Linked DNA regions of Homo sapiens. The protein of the gene in region 1 purifies or fractionates together with the protein of each later gene. This does not show direct contact. Each region holds a gene or a part of one and is shown in the gene's direction. Other genes may lie near its edges. The genes, in order: POLL, SYN2, LTF and RIOX2.

The links.
Region 2: the proteins of POLL (region 1) and SYN2 purify together in Homo sapiens (affinity purification with mass spectrometry; 3 studies listed by BioGRID and IntAct, with this or other methods). This does not show direct contact.
Region 3: the proteins of POLL (region 1) and LTF purify together in Homo sapiens (affinity purification with mass spectrometry; 3 studies listed by BioGRID and IntAct, with this or other methods). This does not show direct contact.
Region 4: the proteins of POLL (region 1) and RIOX2 purify together in Homo sapiens (affinity purification with mass spectrometry; 3 studies listed by BioGRID and IntAct, with this or other methods). This does not show direct contact.

What each region holds. Positions count from the first base shown.
Region 1 is NC_000010.11:101,578,373-101,585,266, reverse strand, and holds the end of POLL (DNA polymerase lambda), read left to right. Parts: intron 1-347; coding exon 348-665; coding exon of another isoform or gene 666-831; exon of another isoform or gene 832-917; intron 918-1,585; coding exon 1,586-1,759; intron 1,760-2,375; coding exon 2,376-2,504; intron 2,505-4,850; coding exon 4,851-5,019; intron 5,020-5,428; coding exon of another isoform or gene 5,429-5,449; coding exon 5,450-5,814; 3' UTR 5,815-6,385; downstream 6,386-6,894.
Region 2 is NC_000003.12:11,999,765-12,007,396, forward strand, and holds the start of SYN2 (synapsin-2), read left to right. Parts: upstream 1-4,623; 5' UTR 4,624-4,787; coding exon 4,788-5,164; intron 5,165-7,632. UniProt on the Homo sapiens protein: Neuronal phosphoprotein that coats synaptic vesicles, binds to the cytoskeleton, and is believed to function in the regulation of neurotransmitter release. May play a role in noradrenaline secretion by sympathetic neurons.
Region 3 is NC_000003.12:46,461,889-46,469,629, reverse strand, and holds the start of LTF (lactotransferrin isoform 1 preproprotein), read left to right. Parts: upstream 1-4,724; 5' UTR 4,725-4,762; coding exon 4,763-4,805; intron 4,806-5,975; exon of another isoform or gene 5,976-6,186; intron 6,187-7,741. UniProt on the Homo sapiens protein: Transferrins are iron binding transport proteins which can bind two Fe(3+) ions in association with the binding of an anion, usually bicarbonate. Lactoferricin binds to the bacterial surface and is crucial for the bactericidal functions.
Region 4 is NC_000003.12:97,969,415-97,977,266, reverse strand, and holds the start of RIOX2 (ribosomal oxygenase 2), read left to right. Parts: upstream 1-4,835; 5' UTR 4,836-4,886; exon of another isoform or gene 4,887-5,677; intron 5,678-7,852. UniProt on the Homo sapiens protein: Oxygenase that can act as both a histone lysine demethylase and a ribosomal histidine hydroxylase. Is involved in the demethylation of trimethylated 'Lys-9' on histone H3 (H3K9me3), leading to an increase in ribosomal RNA expression.

The sequences.
Region 1 (6,894 bases):
ACAGAAATGGGGTGGGCCTGGTGGCTGTTCAGAAAGTCCCAGGCCCCTGAGAGAGGAGGGCTCTATTGTGAAGCCATTTAGCTCTTCCCAACACTCATCACTGCTGCATTTATCTAGGCCATATCTAACACATACCACTGGGGATCCTAGGGCTAGGCACTGCGTGGAGCCAAAGGGAACGTGGCCTCACACCCAAGGAGATCCAAGTCTGATGCAGAAGGCCCCGCCTCATTCTTAGGTCTGACTAGAAGACCCTCCCCCCGCACAAAGAAGATGACCCCCACCTTTAAGGATCCCTTCTCTTGGAGAACAAGAATTTATTGTTTTCTTTTCTTCTCTATCCCAAGCCCATCTCTGATGATGAAGCCAGTGATGGGGAAGAAACCCAGGTTAGTGCAGCTGATCTGGAAGCCCTCATCAGTGGCCACTACCCCACCTCCCTTGAGGGAGATTGTGAGCCTAGCCCAGCCCCTGCTGTCCTGGATAAGTGGGTCTGTGCACAGCCCTCAAGCCAGAAGGCGACCAATCACAACCTCCATATCACAGAGAAGCTGGAAGTTCTGGCCAAAGCCTACAGTGTTCAGGGAGACAAGTGGAGGGCCCTGGGCTATGCCAAGGCCATCAATGCCCTCAAGAGCTTCCATAAGCCTGTCACCTCGTACCAGGTACCCAGGGGCTAGAGTGGGAGGAGGGGTCTTTACTGGCCAGTGGTTAGTAACCCCAGTGGGGTTCAGGTACAGTGGTGAAGATTTTATGGGGTCTAGGACTTGCACAAAAGAAAAAAAAGGAAAATTGATGAAAGCAGATTGGCAAAATCTTGATAGTTGTTGAAGCTGGGAGATGTACGATACTTGGGGGTTATATGGATCTCTCTACTTTTGAATTTTTTAACATAATTAAAAGTTTTTTATTTTTAATTTTGTTTATTTATTTATTTATTCATTTATTTAGCAGAGATGGTGTTTTGCCGTGTTACCCAGGCTGGTCTTGAACTCCTGGGCTCAAGCAATCTACCCTCGGCTCAGCCCTGCAAAGTGCTGGGATTACAGCCATGAGCCCTTGTGTCCCGCCTAAAAAGTTGTTTAAAAGAAGTTTGGACTCTGAAGCCTAACAGACCAGGGTTTGAACTCTGGTTCCTGTCATTCACTAACTGTGTGACTCCAGACAAGTTACTTAAACTCTCAAAGCATCAGTTTTCTCATTAGTAAAAAGGGGCTACTATTAAATGAAATGGTCCCTGTAGCACAGGACCTGACATAGAGTAAGCCCTCAGTAAATGTTAGCTCTTGCTGTTGGAATGATGATGATGGTGGTGGTGGTGGTGGTGACTAATATCATCATTATTTTCTACTTCTTACTGCTGGTCTCCATCCTTCTGGGAACCAAAAGACAAATTACCCAGCCCTCATTCTATCCAAAATTCTCATCTTCAACTACACCCAAGCTTTACACAGCCACACAGTTGCCAAGCAGCCAGGCTGGCTTTTATGTCAGCATCTGCTAGAGGAGTCAGCTTCCTTTCCACTGGCTCTACCTCTTCCATCTCCTCACTCTTCTTTCTTGCCTCTGCCTCCTCCTCCTCTAGGAGGCCTGCAGTATCCCTGGGATTGGGAAGCGGATGGCTGAGAAAATCATAGAGATCCTGGAGAGCGGGCATTTGCGGAAGCTGGACCATATCAGTGAGAGCGTGCCTGTCTTGGAGCTCTTCTCCAACATCTGGGGAGCTGGGACCAAGACTGCCCAGATGTGGTACCAACAGGTCACACCCTGGCTCAGCCCCTACTTCAGTTTTGCTGTGTCTCAGAGTTCCTGCCCCAGATGTGTGCTGTGCTCTGCCCCAGATCCCTATGCTGTGCTCTGATGGGAATGCACCCACAGTATAGGGAGACCATTTTTCAAGCGGACCAGGACTCATATAGACCCCTCAGCTCCCAGAACAGCCTTGTTGCTTGGTATCCTTAAGAAGGAGTAGACAGGGACAAGAAGTATGTTTCTCAGTCTCCCCAGACCAGCAAGGGCCTTCCTGAGGAGGCCAGGCCTTGACACTGCGTGTCTAGAGCAGTGGTTCCCAATCCTGGCTCTGCCCACAATCACCAGGGCAGCTTGGTAAGGATGAAGATGACAAGGTCCATCCTCAGACTGATGGAATCATGAACGAGCATCTTAGGATAGTGGCAGGGCTGGATGATGGCATGTTTCCCATGCTCCCTGCCTTTCCCAAGTCCTGCTGAGTACAGACCCAACTGCCCCTAGGTTGGTCCTGCCTCTAGCCTTCCCTAGAGTCTGGGGCGATGGAAGCCTTGTGTGTGTGCTCACTCATGCCTCTTCATTGGTCCTGGATCCTTACAGCTTCCCATCTGGCTGCTTTTTTCCAGGGCTTCCGAAGTCTGGAAGACATCCGCAGCCAGGCCTCCCTGACAACCCAGCAGGCCATCGGCCTGAAGCATTACAGTGACTTCCTGGAACGTATGCCCAGGGAGGAGGCTACAGAGATTGAGCAGACAGTAAGCAGGTGTCCCAGAGCAGTGAGGACAGCCAGGTCCTGCTGTAAGGTCTTGGGTCAAAGCCAAGAACCCCCAACTCCTCAGCTGGGGAGGACAGCAGGCAGAGGAAACTGTGGATCACCAGAGGTTGAGCACAGAGCAAGTTAAGACTGAAGCTCCAGGCCCAGAGGTGGGGGTGGGGAGCTTTGGGAGGAAAGAGCTGTAACACCAGCCCTCTAGATTCTGGTTCTCAGTAGTCAGGCCTATTAGGATTGGATTCAATTCTAGACTGATTGGTGTTAGGATTGGGTTAATGTTAGGGTTAGATTACAGGTGAATTATATCTGTACTGAGGTTAGGGTGGGTCAGGGCAGAGGGTTTTAATATTTTATTTTATCTTTTTTTTTTATTTCACCAACTTCTTTGAGAACCTGATGAAAACTGTGGACTGTTTTCTCCCCAAAATGCACAAATGTGCAAAGGTTTATGTCTTTTTCCAGATGTATGGACCTTCTAAAGCCCACGCAAGGCTGGCTCAGGATTTGGGGTAGAGTTGGTGTAAAAGCACAGTGTCAGTAGGATTTGGTTTGGGGCTGGAAGAAAGCTCCATCAAGATGGAGTTAAGACCAGGCACAGTGGCTTATGCCTTTAATCCCAGCACATTGGGAGAACAGGGTGGACAGATCATCTGAGCTCAGGAGCTCGAGACCAGCCTGGCCAACGTGGTGAAACCCTGTCTCTATAAAACATACAAAAATTTCCAGCCTGGCAAACATGGCGAAACCCCGTCTCTACTAAAAATACAAAAAAGTTAGGCGGGTGCCGTGGCTCATGCCTATAATCCCAGTTTCTTGGGAGGCTGAGGTGGGAGATTTGCTTGAACCTGGGAGGCGGAGGTTGCAGCGAGCCAAGATTGTGCCACTGCACTCTAGCCTGGGCAACAGAGCAAGACTCTGTCTGAAAAAAAAAAAAAGATTGAGTTAAAGTTAGGCTTTAATTAGGCGTAGGATTTTCTTAATGTTGGTTGCTTTTAAGTTAAGATTTGTAGTTGTCCAAGAAATAAGATTTGGGTTTGGTTTAGAGTTGGGTTAGCGATTAGGTTCATGTAAAAGCTAGATTAGAGAGACACTGGACTGCATTTAGGGCTAGATGTATCATTTGTTCAATGGGCATTAGGATTAGGAGCTGCTTGTAATAGGCAAGTTTTGCTCACTTTGGTCAGGGATTCTGATAGAGTGGGATCCCATGGAGACTGGCCTAGTTTGATTGAAATCAGCCCCCAGCTCCATTCCAGGCCACAAGGCTATGAGGCCGGTATGAGATGGATGGACAGGCCTCTTTGTCTGCCCATCACCAGGCCTTGGTGCTAGTGATGACACCGTCACTCAGCCATGGTGTCCGGGCATGGAGAATGCCTCAGTCAGTACCCAGCCCATTGGAACAAAAGAGGCTTCCCACCTGGCCTCCTGTGCCCCCATTTAAGGGCTCCAGCCATAGGAGTTTTGATGGGATTACTCACGTGGACCTCCTCCTTCCATTCTCTTGGGAGGCTCAAGAAGGGAGTAAGGGGATTAGCGGAGCCCTCCTGTCAGGATACTTGAGGTGTCCGGGGCCCCAGAATTTTCAGTGTCCTGGGGTGGAGGCAGGAGGCCATCTGCATATGAAAGAACCTCAGTGTCTCAGGGGTGGAGGCTAATGGGTTTATTTTTCCTCAGAGGGACAATCCTTCAGCTGGCAGTTGCTGTCTCAGCTCCCTCCCCACCAAGAAAGGATGTGGGTGTTGGCTCAGAACTGCCCCCTCTTTGCTTTCTTTCCTCTCCTTTCCCACAGGTGCAGCTGTATTTCTGTGCTCCACTTTCTCCTGGGCCTGGGCCTGGCGCATGCTGCCAGCCACCTGCTCAGTCCTCAAACCCCAGCTCACATATTCCAAACCTTTAGCTCCAAATCAGTAGATATCTGGGGCTGCCTAGACCTGGCTGAGGGCTTTCAGCACCTGGCCCCTTGTCCTAAGTGGAGTTTCACAGACCTGGGCACGTGGGCTGGGGCAGGGGCAGAGAGAGTCTGTGTCTCCCTACTCTTAAAGAGCTCCACAGGGCAAGCTCAGTGCCCACTCTCAGAAGCAGAGCCGGCACCTTCTCCCGTCTCTCCTCAGGCTTGCCTCCTGCACAGTGAGCTTTTTCTTCTCTCCTGTCCTAGCGAAGGGAAAGAACAGCAGCTCCTCAGGGTGGATTCCCCTGGGCTTGCAGCAGGCATCTGGAATGGGCATAAGCTGAGGGTGTGGGCCCGAGTCTGGGAAGGCCCTTGTACTGCTGTGGGAGAGGAGCTCCCCACGCACAGCCCCTCACCTGTCACCGCTCTCTTTCCCAGGTCCAGAAAGCAGCCCAGGCCTTTAACTCTGGGCTGCTGTGTGTGGCATGTGGTTCATACCGACGGGGAAAGGCGACCTGTGGTGATGTCGACGTGCTCATCACTCACCCAGATGGCCGGTCCCACCGGGGTATCTTCAGCCGCCTCCTTGACAGTCTTCGGCAGGAAGGTATAAGCTCCATCTCTGGGTGAGCAGGTTGACAGAGGGCAGCACAGGTCTGGGGGCCCCCTCAGAGGGAGAACCTCAGAAGTTCCAGTCCTGAGGCAGGAAGCAGGGGAACAGTGCTTTGCCAGCATCCCATCTCTCTATCGGGGCCGGAATCCTCTCCAGGGAGAGATGGAACAGCCCCGCCACACCTATGTGGAGGTGCTCAGTGAACCCTGCAGGCCAAGTATCTCATCTGATCTTTCTGTGACACTATGGGGGAGATGGGAATTACTATCCATGTTTTACAGAAAAGGAGAAGGGCCCAGAGAGGGTAGTGTCACCCAGCTAATACCTGGGCAAGCCCCAGCTTAGACATCAGGAGAGACCTGGGAGGATGGGACAGCCCAGGCCTGGTTCCCTGCCCTCCCAGCAGTCCCCTCTGTTGGGCCAGGGTTCCTCACAGATGACTTGGTGAGCCAAGAGGAGAATGGTCAGCAACAGAAGTACTTGGGGGTGTGCCGGCTCCCAGGGCCAGGGCGGCGGCACCGGCGCCTGGACATCATCGTGGTGCCCTATAGCGAGTTTGCCTGTGCCCTGCTCTACTTCACCGGCTCTGCACACTTCAACCGCTCCATGCGAGCCCTGGCCAAAACCAAGGGCATGAGTCTGTCAGAACATGCCCTCAGCACTGCTGTGGTCCGGAACACCCATGGCTGCAAGGTGGGGCCTGGCCGAGTGCTGCCCACTCCCACTGAGAAGGATGTCTTCAGGCTCTTAGGCCTCCCCTACCGAGAACCTGCTGAGCGGGACTGGTGACCCATGGCTGGGGGTGCTGAGGAGAGCCGAGTTGGACTGGCTACCCCTCCTGGCCACCCAGTACTCCCTCCAGCCTCAGCTGGCTGAACCTCGCCGCTCCAACCACCAGCTTCCTCAGCGAGCAGGGCCCAGGGCTCTGGGCCTGAAGCAAGAGCCAGCCCGGCTCCCAGTGTCTGCCCGGCTCCCAGTGTCTGCCCAGCCCTCTCCCAGACAGGAGCAGGCTGCCACCCCTTCTACCTCACCACTGCCCCTCGAAGAATTTTGCAAATGGCCCCTTGCCCCATTTTAAGCAGGAGCAGGTGGCTGGTTTGAAGCCCCAGGTATCCCCCTTCCCTGCTATGGGAAAGGCCAAGCTGCTGGGTGGGGACAGAAGCTGCAGGGGAGAGGGAAGCAGCCGTGCTGTCAACATCATCCGGCACCCTCTGGGGTAGGAGAACAGCCATTCCACATGTGTTCCCTCTATCCGTCCTGCTTCCTGGGCAGCTGGTGGTGCTGGGAATGGGGTGCCCCAGCCTTGGTGAGGACAGTGTTGGGAGGCCCAGGGGCCCAGTAAAGTGCATTTGACATTGAACCTGCCTGGTGTCTGAGCTGCTGCAGCCTCTGGCTACCTTGTTCCACCCAGGCAGGGACGACAGAGATGGGAACTGAAAAGAGGAGCCCAGAAAGGCTGTGTTAACTGCCCTCCAGACAGGACTGGCCTGAGTCAGCTCCTAAACTCACAGCAAGGACAGCAGTGGCTGTGACCAGGGAGAATGTTGGAGCCAGGCACCCAGAGCTCCTATCTAGTCATCAGCATCTTCTGCAGGCCCTACCTTAGACCAGGCTATCAGGGGACATGAGCAAAAGTGACAAGACTCAGGAAACCATTAGGAACAACTAAATGGTGACCGTGTACACAGGGATGGGCGGCCAGGGAAGGCTTCCCGGAGGAGGAGAGAGGCAGACTGGCAGGGAAATTGCCTCTGAGAGGAGTCAGCAGGCTCTGTTTGGGGACAATTAAGGAACAGCTTTAGAGAGGACACTGTGTGCTGGGAGTCAGGAGCAGGCTGGGCTGGCAGAGGACTGGAAGCAGAGCTTGGT
Region 2 (7,632 bases), on another chromosome or scaffold:
AAGGTATCCACAGGCTGCTAGCAGCATTGTCAAGAAGGACCATCTAAATGGAGATGACAAACTCTCATCATTGGGGTCTCCAAAATGACAGGTAACAAGATGGTGTAGAAGGCAATAATGATGCCTCTTCTGGTACAGCTTTGTCCCTTTCAAAGTGCTTTCCAGATTATTTTATGAGAGGCCCAAGTCAGGCAGACACTTTCATTCTCCATTTGCATATGAGGCCCAGAGACCAGAGCAACTTGTGTAAAATTGCAATGCCAACTAGTGATGGAGCAGGACTAGGATGTACAATTTCTGAGTTCCAGATTCTTTCTACTTTCCTCTACAGCAGGCGAGTCTAAATGGGGTCCCTGACCCTGGGTAGTGAGCAGGAGCCAAGGATGTCATGGTTTCCTTTCTTATTTGGGAGGAAACCCAGACAACAAGCATTTTGCCAAGTGGCTCCATGCACCAGGCTTTCCTTTAAGCTAGGTTTCTGAGCTCTGCCCTACAGAGACAAAATTGCTCCTCAGTCATGTACCCAGCCTCTCTCTCTGTGAGCTATCTCAGCTGCACTGTTGCTCAAGGGAAGAGAGAAATCAGGCGATAAAGCATTTAAATTGGTGCTTGATTTTAGCAGGATTCTTTCATCTGCAGTTGCCAGATGCTTAATTGTGTTCAAAATTCAGTGGGAAGATAAAGATTACAAAGGAAGGATCTCAAAGAGTCCTGGGCTTCTAGAACTGGAAGAGACCTCTGAGATTCTCACAGTGAGAATCTCAGTGGCTAAGTCAGACACTGAGGGATGAAGAAAGGTGGGAGAGACCCCCTACACCGATTGCTGTGGGAGAAATGCCTTCTACCTGGAGATGACGGGAAAATGCTGGTTGGTCTTAAGAGGGAGATAGGTAGAAAATTTCATATTTTATAGACATTCCTGAGTCCAAATCCAGTTATCCTTTCATATTCCAGGTAAAAGGTAGGCGACAGAGTAATAGTGCTATGTTCTACCTGTATCGGGAACCCAGATCCACAGGTAAGGATAAGGGAAATATTGTCATTACAGCCCATTTATAATAAGACACGATGCACTGCATGTTTCTGCAGCATGCAAAAACACTTCTTGGCAAGGACTCACTGCAAGCCGGAAGATACTGATTTAAGCAGATGTGATTTACAGTTGTACTAACTAATGAAAACTTCTGATCATACACAACTGATCAATGACCACTTATGCCCAATTATATGAAAACAGTCTGTTCCTCCACAAGAATAATATTCTTATTAAAACCTACCAGAAAACAATGTAATAAATTAATGGAATATTTGATAAACATTTTTAAATGATCTTGTAGGCCTCCATGGTTTCTATGAAGGGCTCTAAAATAACATTTTAGAGAACATTCTGATCTAGCTCCCACAACTGGGTCACTTACTATGTGTTAGAGGCTTTGTAGATCATTCTGAGAAAATCAGAAGACAGAATCCCTCACCTTGAGGGGCTTGCAATCTAAAAAGAGAAGCTGGACAGACACTAGCAACATAAACATATGCATAAGTACAGCCTCTCAGAGCCACCCCTACAAACACTAGAATGCATATGCCAGTGCCATGAAAAGCTCAAGAAAGACAGTGAGAAACAACACAGACAAGGTTTTTGCCTTCAAGGAGGAGATTCAAGAAGTTCAAAGGGATAGCCTTTGCTCTGGCTATCCTTTTTACCTTGGCTGCCTTCTCCATCCACTCTTTCCTGCCTGTCAGAATTCCGCCCATTTTATAAGGCCTGAGCCTTTCTTTCTCTGTGAAAATTCCTGTCCCTGAGATCTCTTCTTCCTCTGGCTCCTTTAACACTCACTGCCTGCTCTACTTTCAGGTCACTCACAGGCTGCTCTGCTATTGCTAGTTATGTGTTCACATGTTTATGAGCTGTCTTCTTAAGAACTTGGGTTTCATTCATCCCTGAATCTCCTTTACCCTCCTGTCCCTAGCATAATGGCTTGCATGTATTAGGCATGAAAACACGTCTGTTAATTGGTTGATTTTAAAAATATATGCATATACTATAAGCTTAACGGTTGGGGAAATTACTTACTGAAATATTATTTTAAAAAACCTATCACCCCCAAAATTGAAGTGACACAGTGTCTGAAATCCCTTCATTAGAGATACATGCCTTTGATGGCCGGACGTGGTGGCTCATGCCTGTAATCCCAGCACTTCGGGAGGCTGAGGCGGGCAGATCACCTGAGGTCGGGAGTTTGAGACCAGCCTGACCAACATGGAGAAACCCCATCTCTACTAAAAATACAAAATTAGCTGGGCATGGTGGTGCATGCATGTAATCCCAGCTACTCAGGAGGCTGAGGCAGGAGAAATGCTTGAACCCGGGAGGCGGAGGCTGTGGTGAGCTGAGATCGTGCCATTGCACTCCAGCCTGGGCAATAAGAGCGAAACTCCATCTCAAAAAAAAAATTTTTTTTTAAGAAGGGCAATAATTAAGTTTATTTAATTATGTTATTAGTGACTTATCAGTTTTATTCTCCAATAAACACAAAAACCGAGTTGGGTAAGATTACAGTTCAATTCTCAAACAACTGAGTCCTTATTACATGCCAGGTCCTGTGTTTGGTGTGAAGCCCAAAGATAACTAAGACATAATCCTGTCCTAGAAAAGCTTACATTCTAGTCACCAGAATATTGTATGATAGTTTCTTTGGGGTCTATGACAAAGCCAAGCACAGGATATGGAACACTTAGCCCGCCCTGGAGGATTGACGAAAGGCTTCCTGGAGGAACCATCAACTTACATACCTTCTCCATGCCTTCTCTGGCTGCCTGCCTGCCTGCCTTCTTCACTTTTCTACTGGTAAACATAGCTGCCTCAAGATCCACCTCAAATGTCACCTCCTCTGAGAGGCCTTCCTAAGTCTCAGAGGCAGAATGAGTCCCTCCCTCCTTAGGCCTCCTAACCCTCTTTGCCCAACTGTATGATAGCATTTCTCACATCTTATGTGGTTCCTGTGTCTATCCTCCCTCCATCCCCCAGCCCACATAGATCATGAACTTGCAATAGACAAGAGCCACTTCCCATTCATTTCAGCCTTTCCAGCTCTTACCACTGTGCCAAGCATGTAGTAGATAGGAAGACCACTGTGTTATTATAGTTGACTGGAGACTTCTCTGATAGCACCGGCTCAGAGCTGGATTGTGTATCTCTAGGCCCTGAGTTGAGTGCCAGCTGGGATACAGGAAGCAAGAACTGCCCACCAACATTAGTGACAAGCCACTCCCTGACTCCATTCAGCCCAGTACATACTTACTGAGAACCAATTGAAAAAAGAATTCAGGCATCACTACTGGAATACCTACTGCTGTGTACCAGATGCTTTACATACATGATCTCATTTACTCCATGTAACAACTCTGGAAAGGGTTACTTATTCCTTTTTATCAGCTAAGGAGAGAGGCTCACAGGGGTTATTGATCCAGGGTCACATATCACCCGGGGTAGTCTGCTGTAAAGCCTATCTGCTGTGTCCTGCTCCATTACAACACAAGGGAAAGTATATCTAATGAGAGATGAAAACTAAAGGTCCAAGAGTCACGCAAGATTTAGAGAGTGCACATGGGAAGGTGGCCATCAGAAATGTCTTCACAGAGGTCAAGGCAACGAATAAAATGGAAAAAACAAGTAGAAAGATCTTGAAGAGATGTCCTTCTTGGTATAGCACTGGATGCATCAATGCATGCTAGGAAAGAAACACGGTGGGGTTGGGGGATCCTTAGATATCCCTCTTGGGGTGGAGACCATGTCTCCAGTCTTCTCTTGGTTTTCTCTCACTGGTCAGTGAGGAGGGGGAGAGAAGTACATACTGTTGTTGTCCCTAGAAGTGCAGGAGTGAAAACACACCCCACCCCTCCTTCCATGACAGAGTAGAGAGGATCTGTTTCTCCCCTTTCCTCTCCCTCGCCTTGGAGTAAGGAGGCTGCCTTCCTCCCTAGAAGAGGTATTTCTTTTTTGTCTCACCATAGGGTGTGTGTGTGTGTGTGTGTGTGTGTGTGTGTGTGTGTGCGCGCGCGCGCGCGCGTGTGTGTGTGTGTGTGTTAGTAACAGCGGATTATTCCCTTCCCCCTCTTCTGGGGGCTGGGGAGATGACATCTTTCTCCCCAGCGTTGGGAAAGGAGGTGGTTCTTTTCCTCCTCACTACAGGGTGTTCGTGCTTGTGTGCGTGTGTGCGCGCGTGATTGGGATGACTCCTTTCGTTCTCACCTCCGCATAGGGAGGCTGACACCTCTTATCCTTCCAAAAGGAGTGGGGTCGGTTTCCTTCGCCTCCATTTCAGCTGGGACACGGCTCTTTTTCTCTCCAACCAAAAAGATGGTGGGGCCTCTGGTTCCTTTTCCTTCCCCTGGGGAGAAGGCCTGGCTCCCACGCCCTCCCCGCATAGTCACGCTCAGGTTGCTGGAGGCCTGGGTCGCCCCCTCCTGCAAGCCCCGAGAGTCGCCAGACGCGCGGCTAGGTGCCCTCCGTGAGCGGGGCGGGGCCGCCTCTGCGGCGCGGGGCGGGGGCTATCTCTGGCCCCGCCCCTGCCCCGCCCGCTCCCTCTCCGCGAGCCTCGCGCCGCGCGGGTTGCCTGGCCCAGACCGCCGCTGCTGTCTGCGGGGTCTGGTGCCGGGGCCTGAGTCTCTGCTGGCTAAGCCGCCGCCTCAGCCGCCTCAGTCGCCTCAATCTCGCCTTCCGCCCTCGCTCTCCCTCCGCGCCACCAGACCCCGTAGCCCCGCGCGCCCCCAGCCCTTTAAGCCAGATGATGAACTTCCTGCGGCGCCGGCTGTCGGACAGCAGCTTCATCGCCAACCTGCCCAACGGCTACATGACCGACCTGCAGCGGCCCGAGCCCCAGCAGCCGCCGCCGCCGCCGCCCCCCGGTCCGGGCGCCGCCTCGGCCTCGGCGGCGCCCCCGACCGCCTCGCCGGGCCCGGAGCGGAGGCCGCCGCCCGCCTCGGCGCCCGCGCCGCAGCCCGCGCCGACGCCGTCGGTGGGCAGCAGCTTCTTCAGCTCGCTGTCCCAAGCCGTGAAGCAGACGGCCGCCTCGGCTGGCCTGGTGGACGCGCCCGCTCCCGCGCCCGCAGCCGCCAGGAAGGCCAAGGTGCTGCTGGTGGTCGACGAGCCGCACGCCGACTGGTAGGTGCCGGGCGCCGCCGCCCTCGGGGGTCGGGGTCCGCCGGCAGCCGCAGGCCAGGAGAGGACGGTCCCAGGTCGCCGAGGAAACGTTTCAGACCAATAAAAAGGAGGGTCCCCGAGGTCCCGCTGGGAGGAGGTGCGGGCTGAGCGCGCGCGCGTTTGCGGGGTGAGGGAGGGCATCCATCAGCCCGGAAAGGCGAACCCAAAGCTAAAATACCCCTCAATTGCCCCAGGTCCCCCAGGTCCCATACAAGAAGGAGCTACTTTATGCAACAGGAAAGGCCCTTAGGAAATAGTTTTTTTGGGGGTAGAGGAGGGGACACACTTGTTAGCTTAGACACATAAAATCTGAAGTGAAATAGTCCCAGGAGGCCGAAGGAACATTTAGGGCCAGTAAAAAAGGTTTAACTTCATGAAGCACGGAGTGAATTTGGAATGGAAATTGGTATTTTGGAGGGAGAAGGTGGTGGTGGGTTTTTTTTAACCAGGACCCATGAAGGCTGATATCAAGTATTGACATCAGGTTGATGAAATCACACATGTAGTGGCCCAGGTGTACACGGGCTTGTTCCCCGGAGCATGGCTGAAGTCTCTTTATGAATAATAAAATTGTTGTATTTTGTGCAGCAGGGAGGGGACGTGTGGAATTTTTTTTTTTTTTTTTTGATTGCTTGTTTTTCTGAAATGTGCGTGGTGGGGGGCGGGGCGTGGAAGTGAATGGTAGCTTTTTCTAGCTGAAAGATGAAGACCTTGGTAAAATATACTGGATCATTAAAGGGGTACAAATAAAAGGAGACCTGCCTTAATGTAGTAGATGGGAAACTTCAATAATTTTTTTTTTCTTCTAAAGAGATAGGTAGCATGTTTCCAACTTAGAATGGTGAAGGCTGCTGCTTGGTAAAAGTACGAATGAGGTCCACTGAAGACAAATTAGTTAAAAGCGGCTCTATTTTATAGTTAACCTAGGGAATGGTGGGATGGTGAAATTGATAGGTGAAGGGCTTGGAGAAATGAAGAGGCCGAGAATCTGGGGGTGCCTTTTCTCCAGGAATGTGAGCAAGGGTTTTGTTTTTTTTTTTTTCTCATAGGGGTTGAGGTTGGAGACTGGACCTGAGTGTTCTTCCCAGGAGGGGTGCACAGAGAGACCACAGAGCTATTTCTCTCCATTTCCTCTTTTGGCTGCTTCACTGCTTTCTCTCTCTAGCATTCTCTCTTTGGGAGACCCAGAGGGAGGGAGTGCTGGCGTGTGGGTGTGGTGGAAATGAGATGCAGATGTGGAGATGCCCTCCTGCTGGCTGCTAATGTCACCATTCTGAATAGTCCTTTGGGTGACTTATGTGGTTGGCCTTTTCAAGAGAGTAGAGTAGAAAATCCGAAAGGACTTTTGCCAGGAAATGACAAAGGCACATGGAAGAGGGTAATGGGGAAAGTGTAATGCATATGATAGTGCCACTGGCAGCCCTCCTTAGAATTACTCTGACTCAGTTCATATCAACAAGTGCTTATTACGGAGGAAGGGAAGGTAACCAAGCTAGTAAAGGTGCTCAGTCAGAGCATCCATTATATGCCAAATGCTGTACTCTCAGCATGATATCTCATTGCATTTTCTTCACAAAACTGAGGCTTAGGAAAGGTAAGTAATATGTTTACAATCATGTAGCCAGCAAGTGGTAGAAGCAGGATTTGAACTTAGGCCTGTTTGACTCCACTGCTTTCATTCCACTGTGTTATATTGCCTCACTATTATTATTAGCAATATTAATAACAAGCTCCCTCTAGGCAGTGTGGGGGCCTTTTAAGAGAACTCACTCAAATTGGGACACAAAGTGGATACATGAAACAGTTAAAAAGAAATCTAGAATTATTGGTTGAGACTAGTGTTTCAGGCAGTCAACAAATGGAGTGGTTAGTGAGAGCCAGAGTTATTGGAGAAAGCTTCACAAAAGATGAATCTTGAAGAAAGGCCAAGAAAAGGAAGAGGAGAAATGAGAATGACATTCGTGCTTTATTTTTCTGTGCAGGAATTTGACCCTTCTGTACCTTGTCCTGATTTCTTATCCTATTAAATGCACTTGTTTTGAGTCTTATTGCCAGTTAGGTATCTATAGATAGGTACTGATACTTATTTGTATGGGTATGATGAAGCTGCTGCAGATTTCTGTTTAGTTATAAATGCTTCTGTAGCTTAAGATTTGAAACTCTCTTTGGATAGTATTCTCTAGGAAGCCTATTTGGCATAAACTAGAGAATTTGCCTTGCCCTGGAGACTAGAAGCCTCTGATGGAAGTCATAGAAGCCACTTTCCCGTGGGCTGACTCCCAACTGTTTTCCTATTTTCTCTGAAGTAATAACATTGATTTATTAAAACTCATAAGCCCAGTTCAAGTCTAGTTCTTGACAACAGTTTTTTGCTCCTGTGTTTCTGTGCTTAATAGCAGTTCCCAGAATTGCTCTTCTAATATGGGCCT
Region 3 (7,741 bases), on another chromosome or scaffold:
CTCCTTCTCCCCCATTCTCTGCCCCTCTCTTCAGGGTGATCAGCAAATAAATGATCAATACTAAGACACCAAGGCCCTAAGAAGTCACTGGATGGGGTCCCGGGTGGATTTCTAGCTCTACTGTCCACTGGCTGTGAGACCATGAACAGGGTGCATTGCCCAAGTCCACTCAGCTGGAAACAGGTATAACAAGCACCTTTTGGTATTTCCAGAGCATCAGAAGCCAGCTGATGTGTGGAAGGGGCCAGGCAGGGCCTGCTTCACGGAAGGTTCAATTCTTGCCAGGTTCCCTTTGTGCTGAGATCCCTGGGCCTCAGTCCCTGCACCCTGAGCTCTCAGAGGGTTCTTGGCTCATGGAGGAGAAAGCCCCTGGCTGTGGGCCTAATGGGAGACTCAGGGATAGCAGTTGTATCTCACTCACTGTGTGACCTCAGGCGACACTCAGAGTACCTGTTTTTAGAATGGAAAGAGTGACTGTCTTAACTCACAGAGTCGTTGTTAAAGCCATGTGAAACAAAGTCACTGACAGCACTATTTGGATTTTAAAATGTCATCCAAATATTAAAGATTATTATCCTATTTCTCTGCTAGGGATGGCACAGCCACCCATACACAAACACACCCACACTAATGTGGACACTGCATGCCACCAATGATGAACGTAGGCAGCTGTGTGCTGGTCAACTGGCCCTCTGGGGGTGTGGAAGGAGGAAGCCCTGATTTAGAGCATTTGCTAATTCCATGGCATAAATACATCGACTATGCCTGATATCAAGCTGCCATCAGTTAACCCACCCCAAATCCCTAAATGTTTAACAAGTGGTTCTCAAGTCAGCAATCTCTCACCACTGGCAGGGAAAAGATACAGGGCCCAAGGTCTCCCATCTGCCAAGCTATTGTCCAAGCGTGAGTTGATGTCTCAGGAAGGCCTTTTCTGCCTTATCCCACCTGAAGCCAGTTCTACTCAGATCTCACACTTCCTTCCCAACACTCTTCTTGGGGTTTGAAGCTAGAGGCTCATAGAGGGCAGGGTGTGAGGTTTACTGGCTTGCAGGGAGGACTTAGGTTGGCCAGAGACTGTTGCCTGCTAATGGGGCTTGGGCCTGCAATTCTGTAAAGGCTCCCTGGAGGAGTTTTGAGGGTGGGGGCAGAGCAGGGTTAGGGGGAAGGGAGTCAGCCTCACACATCTGCCTGTTGAACACTAGCTCTTGCCACTGCATGGCAGTTTCCACAGCAGCTACCTTCTTTGTGCTCCTTAAACTCATGTTACTGTCTCAGCATTTGGAAACCTGCATTCTGCTTCCCTGCAGGCTCTTTGAGATCTGACCCAACTCCTGGCACGTTGGAGATGTCCCATAGACCAGTGTTGAATGAATGGGTAAGTTAATGAGTCCATGTACACAGGCTTTGGCATGGCCTGGCTTAGGCAGCCCTGACCCTCACTATCCTTCAGACCCAACACATTACAAACAGGATCCTTTGTCCCTTTCTTAGCCTGTTCCTCTTCCTCATTTATTCATTCCTTCAACCGATATTGATCATCAAGTGCCTATAACATGCACAGAGCTAACTGGCCAAAGGATTTGAGGGTGCCTCTGCGGCTCTTTGGTGGGTTTGGTGGAAAGCGGTAGGAAATATGAGAAAAGGTTCAGGGTTGGAGGGACTGGGTGAGTTGCATTTTCGATGCATTAAATTTAGGCGCCTTCAGGACCTGCAAGAGTACCTTTCCAGAGGCAGATGAACACATGATGTGGAGCTCAGGATAGAGGAGGAGGATTTTGTTAATCCTTCTTCCAACAAGAGTTCCAAGCCATGGCTGGGTGCAATGGTTTATGCCTGTAATTCCAGCACTTTGGGAGGCCAAGGTGGGAGGATCGCTTGGGCCCAGGAGGTCAAGGCTGCAGTGAGCTGTGATTGCACCACCACTGCATACCAGCCTAGGTGACAGAGGGAGACCCTGTCGGTAAAAAAAAAAAAAAAAAAAAGAAAAGAAAAGAAAAGAAAAAAAGAATTCCTGGCCAGAAAGCCAGAGGGAACTTTTGTTGTCCCTAGTGCTCAGGTAATTGGTCACTGGGTTCATGCTCCCAAGCCTTTACTTGTTTGGTTGTTTACTTTACAGAATGCTCTACCTGTAGAAATCCCACCCTTCCTTCAGGTACCCAGGCTAAATCTTCCTGGAGTTCTTCTGGAGCCCTCATGATGGGTGCTGGTCATTCCTCCTCTGGGCCCTCACACTCACTTGCTTTATGCTGCTTGGCCTCTTCTTAGGGAGCCTCTGTGATAGAAGTGCATTCCTGTGACTGTCCCTCCCCCATAGTGCTGTGAGCTCCTGAGGGCAAGGACAGACCCCTCTTCTCTGTCTCTCATGGCATCTACCAGTTCTGGCATGAATGAATGAATGAATGAATGAATGAATGCTGTTAATAGATCAGTGAAACTTCATTGTTTTTTGGGGCAGACTCATCCCCTACATCAGCCTCCTCTGCAAATGGCCTTGAGGGGCTGCTCTGCCTGTGTCCAGATGCTCACATCCCTGCCCTGGGGCTGGGCTGTTCCAACAGGCACAGCAGGAAAACAGTCTGCCCTGTTGCCTACCCATGCTGCCTTCAGGGCACTCCTTAAGCTGAGCCTCTTGGTAGTGGCCCCAGGTTCTCTGTGTTCTTGCCAACACTGTAACATACTTAAGAGGGCCCAGGGCCCTCTGACCTCCCAGTCATCCTTTTTTAAAATTTGGACTCAGAAAAAGAGACACGGGTTATGATGTTTCTTAATTCTTTTATAATGATGAAAAGGCAAAGTCTTGTTGCCAATTTAGGTACAAAGATGCTTCAGCACTCCTGGGAATTAGTCAATTTTGTATTTCTTCAGTATTTTTGAAAGAACTTATTGCAATTATTGATGATGGCAACTTTAAATGGTGCAATATCATGTTTCCAAACAATGAGAGACCTTGGATCTGTCACCCCAAAACCCAGCTGGTGATTCTAGCACCAAATCTCAGACCCCAGTCTCATGGCAGGCAAGCATGATCCCTGATTAGCCTCCACCCTGTGCCTTGGCAGGATCATGCCCAGAAATGGAGGGGCTCCCCAGCCTCCTTAATGGCCTCTCCACCTTGGGCTGAGCCTGCTTCTCCATGGCTAGGTGCCCACTGCATGCTCACTCTTGGCAGAGCTGGCTCCCTGGGGCATTGCCTATCTGCTCCAGGAAATGCTTTTTAGTACCAAGTAGTCTAAGCAGAGTCAAGACCAGCTTTTCAGAATAAGCAGATTTCAGAGTCACATATTGGTCAGACTCACCTGCCAAGAAAGGTGTTCAGGTGACCTATTATTTCCCTCACTGTTAGTACCTTTTTTCTTCACTTAGTTACCCTTTTTTTTTTTGGTGGGGGTTACAGAGTCTTACTCTATTGCCCAGGCTGCAGTGCAGTGACATGATCATGGCTCACTGCCACCTTCATCTCCCAGGCTCAAATGGTCCTCCCACTTTAGCCTCCCAAGTAGCTGGGACCATAGGCATACACCACCATGCTGGGCTAATTTTTGTATTTTTTGTAGAGATGGGGGTTTCCCTATGTTGCCCAGGCTAGTCTTGAACTCCTGGGCTCAAGCGATCCTCCCATCTTGGCCTCCCAAAGTGCTGGGATTACAGGCATGAGCCACTGTGCCCTGCCTAGTTACTCTTGGGCTAAGTTCACATCCATACACACAGGATATTCTTTCTGAGGCCCCCAATGTGTCCCACAGGCACCATGCTGTATGTGACACTCCCCTAGAGATGGATGTTTAGTTTGCTTCCAACTGATTAATGGCATGCAGTGGTGCCTGGAAACATTTGTACCTGGGGTGCTGTGTGTCATGGGAATGTATTTACGAGATGTATTCTTAGAAGCAGTATTCTAGCTTTTGAATTTTAAAATCTGACATTTATGGCGATTGTTAAAATGAGGTTACCATTTCCTACTGAATACTATCAACACCAAAAAAGAAGAAGGAGGAGATGGAGAAAAAAAAGACAAAAAAAAAAAAAAGTGGTAGGGCATCTTAGCCATAGGGCATCTTTCTCATTGGCAAATAAGAACATGGAACCAGCCTTGGGTGGTGGCCATTCCCCTCTGAGGTCCCTGTCTGTTTTCTGGGAGCTGTATTGTGGGTCTCAGCAGGGCAGGGAGATACCCCATGGGCAGCTTGCCTGAGACTCTGGGCAGCCTCTCTTTTCTCTGTCAGCTGTCCCTAGGCTGCTGCTGGGGGTGGTCGGGTCATCTTTTCAACTCTCAGCTCACTGCTGAGCCAAGGTGAAAGCAAATCCACCTGCCCTAACTGGCTCCTAGGCACCTTCAAGGTCATCTGCTGAAGAAGATAGCAGTCTCACAGGTCAAGGCGATCTTCAAGTAAAGACCCTCTGCTCTGTGTCCTGCCCTCTAGAAGGCACTGAGACCAGAGCTGGGACAGGGCTCAGGGGGCTGCGACTCCTAGGGGCTTGCAGACTAGTGGGAGAGAAAGAACATCGCAGCAGCCAGGCAGAACCAGGACAGGTGAGGTGCAGGCTGGCTTTCCTCTCGCAGCGCGGTGTGGAGTCCTGTCCTGCCTCAGGGCTTTTCGGAGCCTGGATCCTCAAGGAACAAGTAGACCTGGCCGCGGGGAGTGGGGAGGGAAGGGGTGTCTATTGGGCAACAGGGCGGGGCAAAGCCCTGAATAAAGGGGCGCAGGGCAGGCGCAAGTGGCAGAGCCTTCGTTTGCCAAGTCGCCTCCAGACCGCAGACATGAAACTTGTCTTCCTCGTCCTGCTGTTCCTCGGGGCCCTCGGTGAGTGCAGGTGCCTGGGGGCGCGAGCCGCCTGATGGGCGTCTCCTGCGCCCTGTCTGCTAGGCGCTTTGGTCCCTGTGTCCGGTTGGCTGGGCGCGGGGTCTCTGCGCCCCGCGGTCCCAGCGCCTACAGCCGGGAGGCGGCCCGGACGCGGGGCCAGTCTCTTTCCCACATGGGGAGGAACAGGAGCTGGGCTCCTCAAGCCGGATCGGGGCACGCCTAGCTCTGCTCAGAGCTTCTCAAAAGGCCTCCCAGGCCCCTGTCCCTTTGTGTCCCGCCTAAGGATTTGGTCCCCATTGTATTGTGACATGCGTTTTACCTGGGAGGAAAGTGAGGCTCAGAGAGGGTGAGCGACTAGCTCAAGGACCCTAGTCCAGATCCTAGCTCCTGCGAGGACTGTGAGACCCCAGCAAGACCGAGCCTTTATGAGACTTAGTTTCTTCACTTAAAGAAACGGCCTAACCATGGGTCCACAGGGTTGTGAGGAGGAGATGGGGCATTCGCACACCTTCCGTGGCAGAGGGTTGTGGAGGGGTGCGGTGCTCCTGATGGAACCCTGTGTCAGAGGGTTTGAGAGGGAAATGTCAGCCAAACAGAAGGAAGGAGTAGAAGGAAGGAAACAATTGTCAGTTCCATAACCAAAGTAATTTCTCGGGTGCTCAGAGGGCACTCCCCAGCGCTGCACATTAGTGACCTAAATGCGTGAGTGCGGAGCTCCCTGCAGCACCGGGAGGGGAAGGTCCCAGGCCGCAGCAGAAAGGGCTGTGATGGGCATCAGGACCTAGGCAGTGGGAGGGGCACAGTGAAAGCCCAGGTGTCACACCTCCCCAGCCCAGTGCAGCCTCCACTTGTCTTACGGCATCTACCTAAGGCTGGGAGCTTCCTGGATGGAAGAGGTGGCGGTGGATAGAGAGCAGCAGTGGGAGCCCAAACCCATCCTTGTCCCTGCCCTTCTGGTCTCCTGCTCCAAATTCCTTCCCATGGGTGTTGGTCATCCTTCTCTTCTCTAAGACAGATTGGGACTGGCCAGGACCCGACTGTTCTCTTCCCCTCAAGCTCCCTGGCGAGTGGCCTGTTGCACAGGGTTAGGGCCACCTGGGAGGGGCAGGAGAGGAAGGAAGCCTTGCCTTCCTGGAAGTGGTCATGGGCTGTGGTCCAGGATTCTGGCTCAGAGTTGCACCACTGGGTTTTATATTCACTTGGATCTTTAGTTGTTTTGGCGCCTACTGAGGTCTGAAGTTTGAATCCTGCAGTCAATTGGGATGGTGGCTTGTACCCCAAAGTGCCATTGCAACCCTTGTCCTTCCTGAGGAAAGGGTGGCAGTTGCCCTGTGGAATTCCTGCCCTGCTCCCCGTGGGTGTCCAGGCTGACAGAAGTTGGGTGAGTGGGGCCAGCTGGATCTAAGCCGTGTGAGCATTGGGTGGAGGAGTCTGTCTGCTTAGCCCTGGAGCCATGGGCTGGGAGGCACTCATGAGGTTTCCCATCAGTCTGAGCAGTCTGCTTGGGCCCTATCATGAGCTGTGTGGGTAGGTGGGGAGAGTAACTCCTGTCCTGGCCCCTGCCTTGGAGGCCAGCGCACTGCATGTCTGCCCAGAATGTGTGTTTTGGCCAGTGTCCAGCCAGGTCCAGTGGGCAGCATCTGAGTGCCTGACACTGAATACAAGTGTGGGGTTGAAGATTTTGGAGGGGCCAGACCTAGACCTGCTTCAGGGGGTCACATAGCTCCAGAGCTGGGAGGTAAGAGCTTGTGGGTCACACAGCTCCAGAGCTGGGAGGTAAGAGCGTGGAGACTTCACCTGGTGTTTGGGGGGCTGGGGACTGGGAATCCTGGAAGGGAGCTCAGCGGTCCTTTAGTCACTCTGGTTCAGCTCCTCTTAGGGGAAGAAATGAACTCTGCCCACAGGTTCCCGTCATTGCTCAGCCCCCACCTCCGGCTTGAGGCATGGTCTTCCATTTTACTCTCTCCCTTCACCCCCAGAACCCACCCATTACCAAGCTGATTTCTGATACCAGCTCCCTGCCCCCTTCTCTGTTCTCAGTGCTGTCCCCTCTCTCCACTCAGACTAGCCCTTCCCTGGTGCCTTCGTTGGCCACAGCTTCTCTGCCTGTTCCCAGGTCTCAGTTCACTCTGCCCCTGCCCTAGGGAGAGTCTCCCGTGAGTCACAGCTTCACTGCATCCTGAATAAGACCTCCCTGGATCAGCATTGGAGACTTTCCAGGATCTGACCCAGACCCTTTTCTAGCCCCATCTCCAACCTGTCTCTAACTTTGCCAACCTAAATAGGCAGGCTAGCCCAGTGGTAAGAGTAGGGGAGTTTAGTGCCTGACTGCTTAGGTTGGAGTCCTAGATCCAACACTTACTTATTAGCTATGGGAACTTCCACAAGCCACATAACTAGTTAAAGCCATAGCTCCCTCCCCTGGAGAATGGAGAGGTTGGCAGAATTCACAATACAGAGGAGCTGTGGCAACTAATGGAGACACGTATGTCTCCATTAGCTGGTATTTGTTTGGTATTTGTTCTCTTTTAACACATCCACCATTCTTAGCTTCCTCTTTTTGGATTTTTGCCTCTCCAGTGAGAAGTGAAATCTGGTCCTGTCCGCTTACACATTCCTTGCGTGACACACAGTGCTGTTTGTACAGCAGGCATCCAGTTAATGCTCACTGGGTCACAAATGGCTGCATCTGATTGGGTTAATTCTCAGTGTGGGATAGTTCTATAAAGGCTTCCAAGGCAAGATTATATTCCCTGGGATTTCCCCGGGATGAGGGTGGATGAAGGGGGAGTATGGCAGCTAGGTGTCCCCAAACCTCTGCAGACTCAGCCAGGGAGCTACAGGCCTCTTGCCCACCCAAGGGCCATGGGTGGCTCTCGCCATAAGGGGATGGCTCAGAAACAGGAGACAGCAGAGGCTGAACATTCTACCCCATA
Region 4 (7,852 bases), on another chromosome or scaffold:
TCAGTTATTTTCCTTTTCTATATTCAGAACCAGTTTATATGAGGTATATTTTTCTCTTCTTTGAAAGTTTTAAAAAACTTCATTAACAGACCCATCAGTACCTGACTAGTACCACCTTAGTTGGTCATTTTTAGGTCATTATGATATTTTAAAGGAAAATAAGTAAACTAATGTTGCATCATAATATTGGGGCTTCCTGACCCATATATACATTCTGTTAGTCTTGTAGGAAACATTTTCAATAGGAGCTTGTGTACCTTTTAACAAAGCAACCCAAAGAGTATGAGCAGAAAGCACCTCTGCAGGAGTACATATTTTTATAAGAATTGGGCAAGTCAATTTCAAGATTTATGATAACATGTTAAGTAAGAAAACATCTCTGTAAGGGAAAGTCATTGGAAAATCCTGAGGCATATTTTCACCTGCAAGTGCTGGGTTGCTGGAGAAAGGAGGTCTGCAGAATCATTTAAGAAAAGTCATGCAGCCTAACACCAACTTTCCTATAGGCACAGGCTGTAAAAGAAATTGGACTCTAAGCAAGAAAAGAAAATAGGAATGCTTACCCAATTCAATTTTGTAAACAGAGTAACTACTCTGTGAAGAACTCTGTTGCAGTTCTCAGAATTAAAGAAGCACATTTCTTGCTCCCAAGGAGTTTAAATCATAGTTTTATAAATATGCAAAATATAATTCCAAACGGTGATGGTATGCTTGTTATCAAGTTAAGTACGTTGAGTTCTATGAGCTGTATCGTAACTACTATAGTCTTGAAAGACCTCGGCCTGGGTCATTGTTAAACAAATTTGACTTTTCTGAAGGTACTAAGACACCAAGATTATCCCATGGTGATATGACATCAATTTGAAGGTACTCTGCTTGATGAATTGTGTAAATTAAGTGAAGTATGCATGTATAAAAGGCCCAACTGCATTTAATTCATTCCATGGAATCATGTTCAAGATGTCATATGGGATTTAACAGTAATGCCTCTCACACTCAATAGCATTTTACAGTTTTAAAACTCTTTTGCTTACTCCACCTCACCTGAAACTCACAGCATCTTTCCGAGTTAGGTGAAATTAACCACTTTTGGAGAAACATAAACAGAGGTCCAAAGAATATTACTTGATAGGCAGTATGGGTGCTATGGTCTGAATGTTTGTCCCCACCCTGGATTCATATACTGAAACAGAATCACCAATGTGATTGGAAGGTGGGGCCTTTGGGAGTAGATTATGTCACGCGGGTAAAGCCTTATAAATGGGATTATAAAGAGGACCCACAGAATTGCCTTCCCACTTCTACCACGTGAGGATGCAGCTAGAAGGTGTCCTCTGTGAACCAGAGAACAAGCCTCCAAAACTGTGAGAAGTCCATTTTTGTTGCTTATAAGCCACCCAGTCTTAGATATTTTCTTATAGCAGCCCAAATGAAAAAAATGGACTATCAAATGATGTATTTTTGAGCAAGTTCCTTAACCTTGATGTGTCTGTTTCCTTATATTAAAAAGTTAGCCCAATATAGTGGTATAAATATTAAAGTCATATACTAGAAAGACATGGTTTAGATATTTTCTGGACCAAAGTGAATACAAACACATAGGGGGCAGTACTCACATAGTTTAAAGCAATGTGTGTTTCCTGGAATCGTATGACACAGTAGCATTATAAAATAAAGCTTTACAACAAAAATACAAATATTAATCATTTTATAAGTTCTTCAATGTTTATAGACTGAAAGGTAATTCCAATCAGACTGATTCTTCTTCTAATGCCCTTTGAAAATTGGAGCACAGACCCTTAAGCCTATGGAATTTGAGTGCCAATAGGGATATCACAGTACATCTGGTGCAATCTTACTTTATAAATGAGGAAAGTGAATGTTAGCAAAGAGAGTTTTCCAAATTCATATACCTGGCCCCTCCAGAGTTAGATCTAATAACCATAAAAAGTACATTTACACACCACCATTTTTAGATTTTTTTGCACCCAGCATCATTGTGACTGGAGGTAGGAGTAGGACAGGGTTGCACTTTTGCAGCCTGATGCCCAGGCTGGACAGGTGCACAGCCACAATGAGGTGGCTAAAAACCAAAAGCTCTACAGGAAGAAGAGCCTAGGAGACCACAGAAGAGGAAGACAAACTTGGCTCTAAAAAGAGTCTTTTAATAAAGCAATCCAAACGGTGTGAACGTCAAGCACCTCTGCAGAAATGTAACTTATTTTACAAGGCTCATGGACAAGTCTGTTTCAGGGTTTATGGCCGAGACATGAAGGGAATTCTCTTCTTTCTCCTGTCTCCTTGGCATCTTGTTCCTCAGTTACAGAGGAGGAGCGCTAGTCTGTTGATTAGAAATCTGGAGGCTTCTAGACTTTTCCGGACAGATCTTGAGAGCTGCCATCTACAACATTGTTTTCATGAGAAAATTAATTACAGAAACAAAATAACTGACTTTTAAATGAACCTATGGTGGGGACTGGATAGCAGTCTGCATCTTGTCCTCTGGAAGAACTTTTCCAAAAAAAAAAAAAATACCAGAAACAATACATGTAGGAAGGCCATATATTCTAGAAGCCTCCCAGGCAAGGTTGCAGACCATTCTCCACTCCCATCCCATGCCACCCTTACTTCCTCACCTCCTCTTCCTCCTCTCAGGCAAGGTTGCAAGCCATTCTCCACTCCCATACCATCCCACCACACCCTTACTTCCTCCCCTACCTCCTTCCCTCCCTCCCCCTTCCTCCCTCCCTCCCCGCCCCTTCCTTCTTTCCTTCCTTTAGACGGAATTTCGCTCTTGTCACCCAAGCACAAACTAACTTTCCTTCTCTTTTTCTTTTTCTTTTCCGAAACAGAGTTTTGCTCTTGTTGCCCAAGCTGGAGTGCAGTGGTGCAATCTCAGCTCACTGCAACCCCGCCTCCCTGGTTCAACCAATTCTCCTGCCTCAGCCTCCTGAGTAGCTGGGATTACAGGCAGGCACCACCATGCTTGAGTAATTTTTTTGTATTTTTGTTAGAGACGGGGGTTTCACCATGTTGGCCAGGGTGGTCTTGAACTCCTGACCTCGGGTGATCCACCGGCGTCAGCCTCCCAAAGTCCTGGGATTATAGGCGTGAGCTACCGCACCTGGCCCCTTCTCCTTTTCTTCACAGGAATGATGGGCACTGTTTAGGTCTGAAAATGGAACTATCATGACTTTTTTGCTTGCTATGCTAAGAAATCGGAATTATAATGAAAAAAATCAGAGAGAACATACTGATATACTAATTTTGCATTAGAGGAACTCCTACACAAGATGTATGATTTCCCCCTGCAAAGCTGACTTCCATATGTACTTTTGTTCTGTTAGACATCCTGCGGCCATTTTATATGCTGAGAAAATGGTATTTTGTGTTGACATTATAACTTTTTTCTACAACCGTACTGCTTTTCCAAGTGGTGGACGTGTGAGAATTTACCTTTATCTGAATCCCGGGAACAGCAATATTATTCTATATTATCTTGAGTAGATGTCTTGCAGTCAAAATAAAGAGCGAAGTACATTACCAATATCATATCAACTAGAGATTTTTGCTGTTGACTATTCTTTTTTACCCTGTAAGGGCTAAATTTGATGTTACCCTCGAGTTTTTCCAACTGGAACCTGCCAGGAAACTTACTAGTTATACGAGTATTAGTAAAACGTGAAAAAGACCAACAGTTGACTGACTGGTTTGGCTCTAATCTTGTTTCTGCATCTTCCTAGCTGTGTGATCTTGTGCAAGTTAGTTAACCTCTCCTGACTCAGTTTCCTCAACTGTAAAATGGAGGTAATTGCAAGGTTGTAGTGAGGATGAAGTGAGGAGTATTTGAAACACCTAGCGTGGTGCCTTATAGCCAGGAAGAACTCAATTCAAGACTTGCTATTATTGTTAGTTTTAGACAAATACTAGACAAGGGTGTACTTTGTTCCCATTTGTTCATGTGCCACTTGATCCTTAGAAGCAGCCACTGGTCTCAGTCACCTTGACGGAACGAAATGTCGACTTCCTCTGGGTCCTCTGGCTGTCTACAGAGCAAAGAAAGGCACAGGCCCGCCACTGATTTCCCTGCTCCCTCATTTGTGCCTCCTGACTGGAACCAAATGTTCCAAAGCAGGGAGTGTTAGGCTGAAAGGACTCAGATAACTGCATTTCTTCTGTTTCTATAGCCATAGTCGCAACGAATTTCCAGTATCTTTTAAAACTAGGATTGACTCTCTCTCCCGGAGCGAGATGATATAAATGACACTCGGCTTGTACAAATCAGCATTGTGTAGCCACACAGCCCATAAGAAAGCCATGGGAGAACCCGGACCACCAACTCCCTAAACTTGCACCGCTGGTATTCCTCTTCAGGCCTGCTTCTCTATTCATAAAAGGAACGGAGTTGCACCAAAACGCTCTCTCAAATCCTCTCCTGCCGCCCCAAGTTAAAAGAAAAAAAAGGAGAGCCGGGTGGGTGGCTCACACCTATAATCCAGCACTTTGGGAGGCCGAGGCAGGAGGATCGCTTGAGCCCGGGAGGTAAAGGTTGCAGTGAGCCAAGATCGCTACCACTGCACTCCAGCCTGGGCGAGAGTGAGACCTTGTCTCACATACCATAAAAAAAAAAAAAAAAAAAAAAAAAAAAAAAAAAAGAGGAAAAAAAAGGCCATTTATTTCCTTCCATATGGACTAAAGAAACGCCCGGGCGTGAACGCGGAACACCGCCGGGTAGCCAGGCCTCCGGGCTGCCACCACTTGCGGGCCGGCGTGGCGGGGCGGGGCGGGGGCTGGAGCACGGCCCGGAGCGTGCCCACGCTGCCCCGCCTCCAGCCGCTGCGCCGCAACGCAGTGGGCTCGCGGCCGCGAGCAACAGGCCGTGCCGGGTGAGTGGGGCGCTCTCGTGGGCATCCCAGCGCCGGGGCAGGCCGGGTAGTGCCCGATCCCGCGGGGCGCGCGCTGCTGCTTTAGGCACCCGGGCTCGGGTGCGGGTCTGGGAGACCTGTCGGTCGGCGAGAAGCCTCGGTGGCCGGCGCTGTGGTTGCGGGACCTGGGACGCGCTCCCAGGCGTCCCACCTCCCCGGAGACTGGGGCAGGGTGGGTGGGGCCCGGATCTAGGGGTAGGGTCGCGGAAGCCTTGGTTACAGAGAGTCGCACACGTGGCCTGCTAATGGTCGCGACACCGGTGACGAGCGCACGGAAAGTTTGGAGGCTTAGCAAGGAGGGTGGTGCCGGCCTCCGCCCGGTGGTGGCAGAACTGCCTGTGCGAGCACGGCTTCCACGTGGGCTGCGCCGCCGGGCGTCATGTCGGGCCTAAGAGACACGCTCTACAGCTGTGAAATCTGAAGTTCAGGTGTGTGGGGAGAAGGGCAGCTGCATTACATCATATGCTTCCAATTCATTTACCAGCAAATAATTCCGCAACGATTGGCCGACAGCTGGGTTGTCCAACAGGTTACTGAGACCAGGTTATTCACTGTTTTCAGGAAGGATAGACTGGGAGGAAGAGGATCTGATTTCGCCACTCATTAGCTGTAAATCTGGTGCCTCGGGTTTCATGTCACTGGGCTCATCTTTGAGCAGAGGAACCTGATTTACTCAGCTTCTTCTGCTGGTACTGGTTTTTGCCTCCTGGACATCAAGCTTTGTAACCTCATGGTCACGAAAATACATTGAGGTATAGTCCGTTTCCTCTCTAAAATCAGACTAAAAAGATAACTGCTGATCACTCCTTTAGGTCAATAGGAGAACCAGTTTTCCCTCTGGATTGATTAACATATCTCTGAGCCAAAAAGAAATGTTTTAGATCAGTCTGGGCAACCTTGTTACAAGCAATATATAATTTCTGACAGCCGTGTGTTTAACTGAGCTGCGTTTGACTGTTGTCCTCCATTAGTGGACCTAAAATTCATCTAGAGAGCGTATTACGTTAATGCAGATTATGGGCCTCAGCCATCAGAAGTGGCAATCCAGTGGGCTTGATGAGGGCCCAGAAATTTGCATGCTAACAACCTTGCTGGTAACTCTGAACTACATTCTGTAAAACTGCCCAGGGGATGTAGAAATTCATACTTCCCTCCCCGATTTAGTAATAACTACTGATGTCTAAAGTGCCTTTTAGCTTTTACGATACTCTTGAATCCTGAAGTGACAGCTGCAATCAGAAAAATAATCCCCTCTGCACAGGCCATCTGTTTTTTCCGTAACTGTTTTGTGTAAGGCCTTTGTGGTTTGTCTCCAAAATTGTATACAGACAAAAGATGAAAATGTGAAAAATTCAGCAGACATTTCTTGAGGACCTCCTATGTACCACACCGTGCTTGTTTCCGGGGATATACAAATCCTTTCCTTCAAGAGCTTCCTCACGTCTTCATGTCCTCAAATATTATAGAAAAGGAGGTTAGGGTACCTTTAAAATATAGTGACTGTCTGTCTGTTGCCTATAGTATGGTTGTCAACATTGATTTTCTTATAGGGTTTATCTGTGGGGTAGTCACCAAAGTATGAACTGTAAATCTTTTAGTCTTTTTACATTTAATGCTTATAGTCAACTCAAATGGAAAACAATTGCTCTTCAAAAACTTTTCTGTGATTTTACAGAAATATTTACTCCTATTGGGGTGGTCTCTAAGGCTTATGGGCAAGGTTGTGTTGGCTGTACTATTCTAGACAAAGCATTGTCTTCTTTAATTACTATAGTATTGGATTCTAAGATATGTGTTTTACTTCTTGCTGTTTCCGAAATTATGATATGTACCTTAAGACTTTTGTATGTTTAATGTGGTAGGATGCTTCATCTATTCTCCCCTCTGCTCTAGAAAGCTGTTAAGAGGAATGGTTGTCTTACAGTATGAGTAGTGTGAGAATCAGAGAAATAATGTATTTGCCCAGAAACCTCTAAGCTTAGGCTCCAATTAACTGAGCCTCAAATCATTTCAACATGAACACAGAGAAACAAATGATGTAACTTTTGGCAGTATGGGTAGTGAAATTTATATTCTAAGGAAAGCATTTGTTATACAGTATTGGGGTTTGTTAGTGATTGTAGATGGGAAAGATTCTTTTAAGTGATTTTATTTTGGCTTAAGTGTTTTGCATTCTTTGATTAGCCACACTTTCTGGTGAATGTGCTTATACTGTATTCATATATTATGCTTAAAGAAAAGCTTTTCGTTTGCATCTTCCTCCTGCTCTCTCCCCTTAAATGAATTTTAAACTGACCAATTGTGAGAGATAAGAGATGTGTGGCTGAATATAAAATGACTCTATAGGGTGCCTTTAGTAATACAAACCTAATAAACCAATCTAAGTTTTTAAAAATTAAACGTGAGCAATGTGCTGTGGTCCCCAAGGCCATCTTTAGTTCAGCAATTTGCTAGGAGGACTCGGCTGATTTATTACAGGGAAAAGATATCAAGCACAGTCAGCAAAGGGAAGAGGCACATGGGTGAAGTTCTGGGGATACCAAGTGCAAGGCTCCAAGGGTCTTCGAGCGGTCACACTGGCTGTGCTCAGTTGCTCCAGCAACTAGTTGTGTCAACACTTGTGAAATGTTGCCAACCTGCGAAGCTTGTTAGAGACTCAGTGCCCAGGGCTTTTACTGGGGGCTTTTCACTTAGGCCACCCCTGCCTGGCACATACCAACGTTTCCAGACTCCCAGAGGAAAGCAGGTGTTGGTATAAACTGTAATGATTGTACATTTTAGGCATGGTGAGCCACTCCTATCAGTTAATGGTGGTGGAAACTCTCCCAAAATCTTAAGTTCTCAGACATCGGCCACAAGCTGCACTTTCAAAGGATAGCAGTCAGGCCTGCTATGGAACGTCTTCTGCATAAGCAGTACCCCTTCCC